Regions from separate parts of the Homo sapiens genome. Here all the other regions are linked to region 1. The links come from fine-mapping of genetic effects on gene expression. A gene starts in region 1. Each other region holds a variant in brackets. All regions are shown on one strand. Distances are from middle to middle. Region 1 holds the start of FENDRR (FOXF1 adjacent non-coding developmental regulatory RNA). Region 2 overlaps FENDRR (FOXF1 adjacent non-coding developmental regulatory RNA). Region 3 has its middle 38 kb from the start of FENDRR.

Region 1 (4,171 bases):
AGACCTCTCAGGGACATTGTAAGAGCTGAGAATGAAGTCTCTGAGCATGAAGGAAAGCCCTTCTTGCTACGGCTGTGGTTTTCCCCAGAATTCAGGGGGTCCCCTCCAAATTACAGAGCTGGGAGCTCATTCGCCTCCTCTCTCACGCCCCCACTTCTACACACACCCAGCAGTAGAGATGAGCAGTTGGGGAGAGCCTCCATCTTTGGCCTTCCTGAGACTCCCAGGCCTACTGGGCCGGCTCTTTCGCTGGGCTCCGTGACTGGCTGTTCTGTAAGGTCTGGTTTGCTATCAGAGCCGGTGAAAGGGCAGAAAGAAGGGTGGAAAGGAGGGAAAAATGGATCTCCGGGTTAGCCAACGATGGGACCTGCGGCTTCCCTTCCCCAACTGAAGAGGGCCCAGGAGTGAAGGAGTCTGCTGGGAAAGGGCTCCCCAACTTCATGCTCTAGGGACCCGCTCACTTTGAAGGCGCCCCATGAGTGGGGGAGGGGCGAGGGGAAGGGAGATGCTATTTCCACTTTCAGCGAGCCGCAGCGTGCGCCCTGCACCCCTAGCTGGCTTAAGAGCTGTGCAGCCTTCTCTGCTCACCTCTGCTAAGGGCCAGATGTGCTCTGGCAGTCGGCAGTAGCGACCCCTTCCTGGGAACAGAACTTTCCTCCGGAGGCCAGGGTCTCCTCATCTGCAACTGCCATTTGCCACACACACACACACAAAAGTTGGGAGAGAATGTGAGAATGCTTGTGTTCGTGGACGCGTGCGCACGTATGGAGCGGCGGTACCTATGATTATTTGCGCGTGGCGCCTGGCTATGCGTGGGCGAACGCGCAGTGGAGAACATGTGGGCGTGCATGAAGTGTGCACTTAAACCAAAGTGTGCCCTCCCCGTTGGGCAGGCCTGTGTGTTGGTCCAAGGGTTGGGAGCGCCTGAGCTGTGTGAGGGTCGCTGGGAAGGGTGTTTGAGGCCGTGGGCGGTGCGGAGCGTGTCTGTGTGCGCGGAGGCTGAGCTGGTTGTGTGAAGTGGTAGCGGGTCTGCCAGAGAGCGTTTACCTGCGTGAATGCACAACCACACACTACGGGTCACGTCCCACACTCATTCTTTCCCTAGGCGGGCCAGGCTGTCTGCACGCGGAGACCCAGAGAGGCCAGCGGAAGGGCAGCGCGGGAAGGCGGCTCTCTTCTCCCGCGAGCGCAGATCTGGCGGAGGAGGCGGCGACTGCCCGGCAGGCTGCGCCGGCGAGCCCCCCAGCTCCTCTCACCGACGTGCCAGGCGCCCCGAAGGCGACAGGCGTCTCCCGCCGAAAATGAAGGCGTCCGAGCCAGGAAGGTGGGGGCGGGTAGTTAGCGGGAGACAAGGAGTCCGGAGAAAACCGAGAGGCGGGTAGGCTTTGAACGCGCCGCGCCGCGGGCCGTGCTGCGAGCCCGGCACACGCCTCTCGCCCCAGCTCGCGCTGGGGCTTGGCCTCTAGGCTCTTCGCGATGACCCGCGAAAACACCCCTCGCCCCCCTCTTCTCAACTCGGAACCCTGGAGGGAGAGGCCGCGCCCGGCCAGCAGTCGCTGCGAGAGCAGCACTCACCTGGGTCTGTGCGCGCCGCGATGCGCCGGGGCTCCTGCGCTGTCCTGCGCTCCGCTCTCGGCACCACCTTTCGTGGCTCCACCGCCCCCAGCCCGCACCCGAGCGCTGAGGTGGCAAGGGCAGGTCTGCGTGCGAGCCCCCTGCGGGCTGGCAGCCAGGTGCGCGAGGGCCGCCCTTGCCGGCGCTCCCAGCCCGCGCTGTCTGCTCTCAGGAACCTGGCCTGGCGCGCAGTGTCAGAGGCCCCGCGGCGGCGGCAGGCCGAGCCCACAGGGGCATTAGGCCAACTCCCCCCTCCCGCCCTGCGCACGCGGAATTCTCTATTATTATTATTAAAGAATCCCCCAGAACTTGTTTACGTTAAACCCTGTAAACTTCCTGCCAGGGCCTTTGCCATCTCTCGGGAAATCGGAACCTGCGCTTTGAAAACGGGGCCGCGGGGCCAAATAGGCGGGTTTTCAGTGTGTGTTGGGGGTGGGGGAGGGCAACTGAACTACGTGTGAGTTCAGATCCGAGCGTGGCGTGTGTACGCGTGAGTGGGAGTGAGTGCGAACTTAAGCTCCTGTGGGCCTTAAGCTTCCGTGTCAACGAGTGCATTAGTGGGTGCGCACATGCCTGAGCGCCCTCTGCATATGAGTGTGCACACACGCATGGGTGTGTTTACACGTCTGTTTGCGTAATTTACCGGGTTTGCATGTGCATCAAGACATGTATGTGTGTGCTAATGTGTGGACAAGAGCGCGAGGGTGTGCGCGCACGGGTGAGTGACTGAGCACGCCGCTTATTCAGGGGCCTGTGCGGTCTGGGTCGCCTCTGGGCCAGCGGGTTCTCACTCGCCCCCGTCAGGCCCGCGGCGCCCGAGACAAAGCGGCCGCGACTCGTGCTGCGCTTTCGTTTTCCGCCTGCGCTCTGCCCCGGCGGCTGCCCGCCCGCTCGCAAGCTGCTGGGCGAGTCCGAAAAATCCCGGGAGCGGCGCAGTTCTTCCCGGGGCGGGGAGAGTGGGTAGGCGGTCCCTCGCGGGAACTTAGCCGGCCGGCCGCGAGGACCGGAGTCGAGCCGGCTGTGCCTGCGATGGTCACGACCGGGAGGCCGCCGCACTTGCGATTTGCTACAGGGCTGTGCGCGTCGGGGAAGGCCCCGGCCCAGGGAGCGTTTCCCGCCGCGCCGCCCGGGCGGGGAAGGCGGGGTCCAGCGCGCACCGGGGCTGAACCGCGGGCGGAGGGCGCATTAACACTTGCTCGCCAGGTTGGTGGAGGCGGGGCGGATTCTGCTGGCGGCCGCGGGGCGGCGAGAGTGGGGGCTCTTTAAGCGCCCACCAACGCGGGGGCCCGAGGGGGGCAGGGACGGAGGGAGGGAACTCCGGGAGGGTCTTAGGCCGACCCGCGAGACGCAGCCGAGCGGAGATGGAGTGAAGGCTGCCTCGCCCGGAATCTCGGAGCCGAGCGCCGCGGGCGGCGGGGACTCAGGGCTGCTCCCGGCTGGGGCGCACGGCCGTAAGACCTGGAGGTGGTGCCTCCCCCCAAAAAATACCGGCGGGGGTAGCTTCCTCACGGCCTTCGCCCGGGCTGCCCTCGGCCTCAGCTCGGCTCCTTTCCTTGTGGGAGGGCGAGAAAGAAAGAGGGAGGAGAGAGGTGGGGGAGGCGGGAGTTGGAGAGAGAGGGGCTCTGAGCCAACCGCCGGCGGATCCAGCAGCTCCTCGGGGAGGGCGGGCGGGAGCGCGGGGGCGGGCGCGCCGCGGCTCGCTCGGGAGAAGTGGCCGCCGATGACGGCAGAGGTGCAGCCAGCCCCGCGCGCGCAGCCCCCTCCCCTTCGCCCTCCTCCCCCCCGTCGTCCTCTTCCTCCTCCTCCTCCTCCTCCTCCCGGCCCGTCCGCGGCGCAGAGCAGCGGCGGCAGCGGCGGCGGCGGCAGCAGCCACCCGATGTCTTCGGCGCCCGAGAAGCAGCAGCCACCGCACGGCGGCGGCGGCGGCGGCGGCGGGGGAGGCGGCGCGGCCATGGACCCCGCGTCGTCCGGCCCGTCCAAGGCCAAGAAGACCAACGCCGGCATCCGGCGCCCGGAGAAGCCGCCCTATTCCTACATCGCGCTCATCGTCATGGCCATCCAGAGTTCACCCACCAAGCGCCTGACGCTGAGCGAGATCTACCAGTTCCTGCAGAGCCGCTTCCCCTTCTTCCGGGGCTCCTACCAGGGCTGGAAGAACTCCGTGCGCCACAACCTCTCGCTCAACGAGTGCTTCATCAAGCTACCCAAGGGCCTTGGGCGGCCCGGCAAGGGCCACTACTGGACCATCGACCCGGCCAGCGAGTTCATGTTCGAGGAGGGCTCCTTTCGGCGGCGGCCGCGCGGCTTCCGAAGGAAATGCCAGGCGCTCAAGCCCATGTACAGCATGATGAACGGGCTCGGCTTCAACCACCTCCCGGACACCTACGGCTTCCAGGGCTCGGCCGGCGGCCTCTCGTGCCCGCCCAACAGCCTGGCGCTGGAGGGCGGCCTGGGCATGATGAACGGCCACTTGCCGGGCAACGTGGACGGCATGGCCCTGCCCAGCCACTCGGTGCCCCACCTGCCTTCCAACGGCGGCCACTCGTACATGGGCGGC
Region 2 (4,171 bases), 31 kb before region 1:
GATCACATGTCTAATCTCAAAGGGTAGGATAATCCCGGCTCGCATGTGCGTTTGGCAAACGTTCGCATTGGTTTAGCATCAAGAAATGGCTTCCACGGGAGGATCTGCAATTTTATACTTTGCAAAAGACAGCTTTCTGTTGCATCCCCCATATTGTTAGGAACAAACTCTTTTCTTATTTGAAGAAAAGAACCTGCCCTTTTATGGGAAAACTAGTTCAGCTCTGTGTATATTATGCCACATGAAAGCAGTTTTGCCTTCATTTGTGGCTGCCTGATTACAAAGACAAGATCTTTAATTAAAATTGGTTTGGTTCTGTGTATTTCTTTCAAAGAAAACCATCGAAATAGCATTTGTGACTCATTACCTTCTTAACAGTGATGTTCTCCTTCTTGCCTCAGCATTGGGTCCATTTTGATGGAGATGCTGACCTCGAATGATCAGGGGACTGTGCCAACAAAGAGCTTTGTCTTCATCCTCAGGTTGGCTTTCTGGTGCTGTGACTTTGACCTGGGCAGTGAGTTTTTGTCTGAACAATTGTTTTGAGGGCATGGAAACCTCAGTCTTACCTGAGTCCAGGAGGGCATGGTTGAGGCCTCTGCAGGCCAGCTAGCATCCTCTGGGTGGGCCCCGGGCTGAAGCACCAGGGGATGCCCCCATTCACTTGGCTGGAAGGCCAGGGAAGGCCGGAGCTGATTTTCTCATTATCCCCATATGTCCAGGGTGGATTTGGAATCACATGGCTGGCAGGAACTCTTTCCAGCTGAGGAACAAGATTGCCTAGATCCGAAGGCTGTCTAACATGTTAGCAAAATTAGTGCTTAGCAATATTTTTGAGGATCTGTGGTTGGGTATTTTGTGTTTTTTCTTCTGCCAAAACAAGCTTGCTAACTTCTTTGCTTCTCTGTTTCCTGCAAAGAAAAGCAAGGGAGGGGGGACGCCAAATCATTTGCACATTTCACGTTGACGGAGCCCTGTGCTAGCACGATCGGAGGTCAGACGGGAAGCCAGGCTTCTCGGGCGGGGCTTGTAATAACAGAGTGACCCGGGCTCACTCACCCCACCCAGCACTTCCCACCTGATCCCAGCAGGAGCTGCTCTTAGCTGCTCTCCCTCCTCCTCTTCCATGAATCCAGAGCTTTCAAAAATTTGGCAGAGTAAATTGGAATCTTAGACTTTTCTAAGTGTGGGTTGTATTTTTCAGTTCTCCTTCCTCCCCACCTAAGCAAGACCAGCCATATCCCAATTCCTTAGGCAAGTCATGATGACAAGAGCTAAGCTTCAATGAGCACCTGCTGTGTACTGGGTCCAAGTGCGTTCTGCTCACTGATACCTTTAACCCTCATAATAACCTAGATCTGGATTGCTAAGATTGAGTCTTAGTTCTGCTGAGCAGTGTGACCTTGCACAAGTTACTTAACCTCTCTGTGACTCAGAAAGACACAGTGGAGAAAGTATGTGACTGACCTCAAAATGTTGTTTTAAGCAAATAAGGCTAAATATGCAATGCTCTTAAGAGTAGTTCTGGGTACATGATAAGCACCTCCGTCCCAGTGTTAGCTGTTACTGTCCCATTGTCCTGAAGCCAGGCGATTACCTAAGAGCACACAGTGCACTGCTGGCAGAGCTGGGCTTCGGGCTTTTGACGAGTAGGCTGCAGTGCCTTGGACAGAAGCAGCAGCTGCAAGATACCATCACTGTGTCGGGGTATGTGCAGAGAAGAGCTCCTTATGCAAGCATTCTTCAGTGGCTGCAGGCCATAGCTGCATGCAGGCAAACGCAATGCCAAGGCATGTGTGTGTGAAAGAAGGAAAATGTTCACCACCATCCTCTTGCCCCACCTTCTAAAAGAGAAAGGGTACTCCCTTTACTTGGCTGGTTCCTGGGCTGGAGTGTGGTGTGAGGACAAGGGAAGCAGGGTGGAGGCGATCTAGAAGATGGGACAGAGAGAGGCCACAGGATGTAACAGCCAGGGTGTGTGACCAGCCAAATGTCCATCAATGGAGCTTGGTTAAATAAATGGTAGTAGACTAAATATCACACAGCTGCCACCAAGATGGAGGAAGCTCTGTGGGGGCTGACAGGGAAGGAGCACCAAGGTATATTGTTAGGGGGAGAGCCAAACTGCAAAATGGTGTGTATGACGCACTAACTTTTGTGTAGGAGGAATAAGATATACACACTCTTTCCTTGCTATACTCGCAGACTTGGTTCCAGGACCCCTCAATATATCAAATCTGTGCATATTCTAGTCCTGCAGCCAGCCCTGTGGAACCCACGATACCAACAGTCAGCCCTCTGTGTGTGCAGGTTTCACATCCAC[G/A]AACATCGTATTTCCATCCTTGTTTGGTTGAAAAAAATTCACATATAAATGGATACGTGGACTCAAACCCGTGTTGAACCAGTTCATACCTACGTTGTTCAGGGTCCACTGTAGTTGCGTTTTCTTTTATGTGCATGAAGTAATCCTAGAAGAATAAAACTGGTTATCCAGGAAGGGTGCAGAGAGGAGGAGATGCTAGAAACTGAGCAAATGGGGCACAGAGATGGGAGCAAGCTCTCTCTACATGTGTGTCTGTGTACTGTATGTACATATATTGTATATTGTATATATATGCTGTATACATAATTTCATCCACATATACATTATTAATTAATATTAATAAAACATTAATATTTATTAATGTCATAATCAATATAGTATTATATATTTCTATTTATATTATATACTTGTATAATTATATATTATTATAATGTTATAATTAATACATTAAAATTGCACATTAATTAATAAAACATTAATATTTGTTAATGTTATAATTAATAAATATACATGTGTATGTATATTAACCCATGTGAATAGTTAAATGTGTATATACTTAATAACAGAGCTTGAAAATATCATAAAGCAAAATTTTATAGTAAAAAAGGAGAAACCAAGAAATCAACCATCATAATTGGAGATGTTAAAATCCTCTCAGTAGTTGATCGAAGTAGGCAAAAGAAATCAGTAAAAATATAAAAGATTGGAACAACACTAGCGACCACTTGACCTAATAGAACATATAGAATACTCACTCAGCAAGTGTAGAAAACTCACTCTTTGTGACTGTATGTGAAACATTCGTCAAGACAGACCATATGCTGGAACATAAAACAGTTGTAATACATTGCAAAAGACTAAATGTCCAGAATATGTTCCCCGACCACAATGGAATTAAGTTAGAAATCAACAAGAAAATATCTGGAAAAAATCCCGAGAGACTTGGAAATTAAGGAACACTCTTCCAAATAACCCATGGGTCACAGAAGAAACCGCAGAGGAGCGGTGGATCAAAGAGCACGGACACTCACGCCTCCAGCAATAAAAGACTGGCTCAGCTGAGCCTGTGTGTCCTTGGATGACGCAGAACACAGTGGCCCCATCAGTCCAGAGAACCCGGAGCTGCCATGCTGTCTCTTGCCGAGGCAGTGGCAGAGGTTCCTGGAGTTTTGAACTCCCCTCCCAGCACCCACTAGAAGCCCACCCTTCTGGGATTGCCAGCTGGAGGGAGCCTCATGCTGAGGTGGGCAGGGAAGGTGATCCTTCATCCTGGTCTGGGAATGATTTTGTGTGGTGAAAATAGAAGCAGCACTTTTATCCAAGGAGAGAGGCATAATCACCAAATGCACATGAAATTGCTTAAACTCTGGGAGCCGACAGCCCCCTTGGTTTAATTACACAGCGGGGCCGTATTCTGCTGAAACCATTACATTTTAGATCTTCTCTCTCACACACATCCAGGCGCGCACACACACACACACACACACACCCTGCCCAGCCTCCGGGGGCAGCCAGCAGGACTTCCCATCCCCACCCTCCCTCCCTCTCTGAGATGGGAGTATATATTTAGCCTTTTGCAAGGTGAGGATATTTTTGAATTAGATATTTGTTCACATAGTCCAATATGCCTAAGTCCACAGGGATAGAGTGTAAGTTTCTTCCCCTCCTGTCCCTTCTGCATACTACCCAGCTACCCAGATACAACCAGCGCCATCAATCTCTTGCAAATCTTTCTGAAAATCATTCCCACCACAAGCCCATCTATCCCTCCACAGCCCTTATTCCGGAAGGGATATGTGAATTTTTGTATCATCTGTTTGCAGTAAGTAGCCAACCACTTCTCTTCCC
Region 3 (4,171 bases), 38 kb before region 1:
GTGCGGTGGCATGATCTTGGCTCACCACAACCCCTGTCTTCGAGGTTCAACTGATTCTCCTGCCTCAGCCTCCTGAGTAGCTGAGAGTAGCTGCCTGTAAATGCGTGCACCACCATGCCTGTTTTAGTAGAGAAGGGGTTTCGACATGTTGGCCAGGCTGGTCTTGAATGTGACACTTTTTAAAGATAACGTTAATACCAGAGAACGCTAATGAACAAAATATTTAAAAATATTAAAATTGTAAATAAAGACAGAATCTGACCCTGGCCTTGTAGAACCCTGCCTTGCTGGCCATCCTCTAATCCTGGCCCTGGTTTCAATAAAACTTTCTTCCTCATAACAGGCTAGCCAGTGGCAGCAAGCAGCAGTTTGCCGGTTTGGTTTTTTAAAATATTATTCTAAAGTATCATTTCTCAAGATTTTTGGTGCACAGTTAAATTTTGCAGCAAGTCCTCCCTGGTCCCACAATTCAGTGAACCTGCTCTGGCCTGAAATGTCCCACAGTGAGACGCTGGTAAGCCCGGCCGGACTAAATCACAGGTGCTGGGTATCCCAGCAGCCACAGGAGTCCTGCCGCTCAAGGCGGTTCCCGCGGGCTCTCTTCTCACTTGGTGAGACTGTATATTTGCAGAGAACATTCTCGACGCCATGGCTGCTGACTGGGCAGAGCCTTTGCCAGGGTATTTGCATCAAAGTCTTCTCAACTTTAAAGGTGTATGACATTTCTGAGACAAAATACAGCTCAGCTAATCATATTTTAATAGCTCTACCTTTACAAGCGGCCTGACTCGGAGTGTATACGGTAATATTTTAATTTCTCAGCTCTGATGAGCATCATTCCAACCAGGTATTCAGTTTCCCCATTTATAAATTTTGCTCCCAGATGTTGGATGCCAGAGAACTCTACATAACAGCTCTACCAATATAATATTTAATACTGGATGTCAGTTTTGGTGTTCCACTCAATTTCCTGGAAAGAGGTTGAAACTCCTCTGATTTAGGCAAAATATCCAATCAGTTGCATACTCCGAGGCCCGGCCCAGATTGCCATATAATACCACATAACTTGGGGCTCTCATTTCTGAAATGCAAATTTGGAGCAGATGTAGGAAAAGTTTGTCATTTATTTCCAAATGTAACAGTTATCAGGCCGAGTCACCGGGAGGGATAATTAGCAAGAGACCAAGTTCACAAGCCTGTCCCCCTAAACCAGGAGACTTGCTGGGAGACCTACCCCAGCCCCGGTGGGGAGAACAGCATGGGGGGTGTTGGGCTGGGGGTCTCAGATCAGCTACTGATGGAAGAGGCTACATTGGACCTGTAGGTCTGGAGCAGGTTTTGCATTTGACTTAGAATTTTTAAAATAATGGTTTTGGGACACAGGAAGGTGGTCAGCATGTAATCCTGCACTTCATTTTAAATATGAAGATCAGGCCAGGCGTGGTGGCTCGCGCCTGTAATCCCAGCATTTTGGGAGGATGAGGCGGGCGGATCACGTGAGGTTAGGAGTTTGAGACGAGCCTGCCCAAGATGGTGAAACCTCGTCTCTACTAAAAATACAAAAATTGGCGAGGTGTGATGGTGGGCACCTGTAATCCCAGCTATTCCGGAGGCTGAGGCAGGAGAATCGCTTGAGCCTGGGAGGCAGAGGTTGCAGTGAGCCAAGACTGTGCCACTGCAATCCAGCCTGGGTGACAAGAGCGAGACTCGGTCTCAAAAAAAAAAAAAAAAAAAAAAAAAACATGAAGTTTGGAGTATCTGCAGTCACAGTGTCACCCCAGGCTGACTAACTTCCCTCAGTCCAGCTCTCTCTGTATGATTTTGGGGGAGGCAGGTCACTCAGTTCTTTGAGACTCAGAGGAGCTTATTTTCTTGGCGATGCCTTCCTGGTGACCTTAATGCTTGTAGTCAGCTGAAGAAGAGCTGCCTGGGGTGCAAAAGCCACGAAAAACACCATGTTGTAGGTGGCCAGTGCCTCTAGGGAGCCAGACCAGCCTCCAGAGTGGGCCAGGGTGAGATATCCCAGGGTTGGGAGGT[A/AT]TTTTTCCGAGAAGTTACTTATCAACTAATTGGTACTTCCGTTTCCTCATCCCAAGGAGGAATGATTGGTTCCTCGCAGGATTCCCTGTGATGATATAAACAGGGTGGAGGAAACAATAAAGCAAAGTACATGGAGCTCCCGATGGGGTGGATTCCTGACATCCAGTACTGCATGCTGTTCATGGTCCAAACGTCACGGAGGCAAGATGACAAGTCCTTCAAAACAGGCCCTTCTAGGGGGACCGAATAATTTCCATCAGTGACTAGGAAGTTAAGAGGTCGTGCATCTAACCCCACCTCTCCTGGGACCTCACTGTGTGCCTCAGTTTCCCCTTCTGTCAAAAGAGAAGGTTGGGCATGGGAGCTTCAAAGTCCCTTTCAGCTCTCAGGAGACTTCCTTCCCTGCTGCCCTTGCTGGGGATGGAGGATGTAGACAAAGACCCCTTCCCATTTTCTTGTCAGGGGAAGAGGAATGTGAGTCCTTAGCATGTTGAGGCCCCAAGGAGAGCTTAAGGAGCCAGAGCTGCAATGGCATATGGAGGAAGTGTGTGGGTGGCTCCCAACTTTCCTGCCTCTTCCATTCTTGGTCTGGCCAAGTTCAGGAGCATCCCTCCTCTCGCCCTGCAAGGGCATCGAGTCACCCTCCCCTCCCTTCTCCCCTTGTCTCTTTCTTTCCTTCTTTCCAGATACCAAGCCGCTTGACCTCCACTGTAACGGCCTCAAGTCTCCCCATCGTCTGGGGGCTCTGCTGCTAATTGGGTCGTAAAAGATGATCCTACTGCATAGCTGTCTGCAAAGCGGGGCCCCCGTGACACAGGATCAATGAAATGCATAGCTGTCTGCAAAGCGGGGCCCCCGTGACACAGGATCAATGAAATGCAGACCACAGGGTGGGCTTACCTGCTGACACTCTGGGCAGAGCCAGGACTGCAGAAGTCAGAGGGTGACTGGATGCTCAGGATGGGAGAGGCAAAGACTGGGGGATGAATCATCCCTCCCTGGAGGCCTCCTCATGCCTCTGACCCCCCAGGCTTCTGTTAAAGCGGCCAAAGCCCTCCTCACGCACTCCAGTCAGAACATGGCCCCCTGGGGCTGCTTCGCAAAGGCCCACAGTCCCGCGAGACCCCGTCCAGAAAGAAGCCCCACGTCTGAGTGGCTCCACCTGGCAGTTCATTCATTCATTCACTCATTCGAGCATCACTCGTTTACCGAGTACCTCTGACAATTCTGGCACTGAGCTGCACCCTAGGAGTGCATGAATGGTGTGGCCAGGACCGTGGCTTTCCGTCTTGTCTGCTGTCACCTCCACATTAATAAAGCCCCGTGTTTAGTCGGGGGTGTGGCCACCCAGGCATGAAACTGCACTTCCTGCCTCCCTTGCAGCTAGCTGTGGCCATGTGATTGCACCCTGGTTAACAAAACTATGCAGGGTGTGGGGGGCCCTTCCTTCAAAAACAAACAAAAGAAACACAGTGGGCCCAAGCCCCTGGGTCCTTTCCTCTCAGTGGTCCTCTCTCCTGCTGGCTGGAATGCAGATGGGAGGGCTGAAGCTGAAGTGGCCAGTCTTGAGAAGGTGCCTGGGGACAGAGGACCCACATGGTAGAGCAACAGACAAAGAAGCCACTTCTCTGGACGGCTGGAGGGAAACGCATCTCTCCACCCTGGCCTGCCTTCCTCTAGACTTTAGTGTGAAAGAGAAAAACACAAAATCTACCTTCTTTAAGCTACTGTGACTTAGGGTTTTCCAGCTGAGGATAATTGAAACCTACACAGCAGGTCATGGTGCCACATCCTGGTGCAGGGCTGTTGGCAGCACAGAAAGCCCACTGGCCTGGTCTCAGGGGATTGGAGAGGCGTCCCGAGGGGTCTGTGTCTTGGCTGTGCCCTGTCAGGTGTGTTGGCCAAGGGAAGACGGGTAGGGAGGCATTTCAGGGCTGGAGGTGGGAAGAAGTTCAGTGTGTTTGGAGAAGCTCTGGACTCTTCAGGGTGGTGGGGACCCCTGCTTTGCATCTATAAAATACACCAGGCCTTAAAATATGTGACCTGTGATTCAAAGGGAGAGGCTACTGGCTGGAGTGCAGTGGCGCCATCTCTGCTCACTGCAACCTCTGCCTCCCAGGTTCAAGTGATTCTC

Evidence for each region.
Region 2: its variant is fine-mapped to the expression of FENDRR in lung (TOPMed, PIP above 0.99).
Region 3: its variant is fine-mapped to the expression of FENDRR in transverse colon (GTEx, PIP above 0.99).

Annotation. Positions count from the first base shown.
Region 1 is chr16:86,507,080-86,511,250 of GRCh38, forward strand. FENDRR (FOXF1 adjacent non-coding developmental regulatory RNA) reads right to left here and starts at 1,781. Exons shown (of 4, transcript NR_033925.1): 1 at 1,576-1,781. FOXF1 (forkhead box F1) reads left to right here and starts at 3,448. Exons shown (of 2, transcript NM_001451.3): 1 at 3,448-4,171. The coding sequence starts at 3,491.
Region 2 is chr16:86,476,289-86,480,459 of GRCh38, forward strand. It overlaps FENDRR (FOXF1 adjacent non-coding developmental regulatory RNA), which reads right to left. Exons shown (of 4, transcript NR_033925.1): 2 at 2,417-2,468; 3 at 1,598-1,763; 4 at 1-911. Among named protein-coding and RNA genes, the nearest start is that of FENDRR, 30 kb to the right of the region's middle. The variant G/A (reference allele first, on the strand shown) is at 2,324.
Region 3 is chr16:86,469,044-86,473,214 of GRCh38, forward strand. No RefSeq gene overlaps it. Among named protein-coding and RNA genes, the nearest start is that of FENDRR, 38 kb to the right of the region's middle. The variant A/AT (reference allele first, on the strand shown) is at 2,038.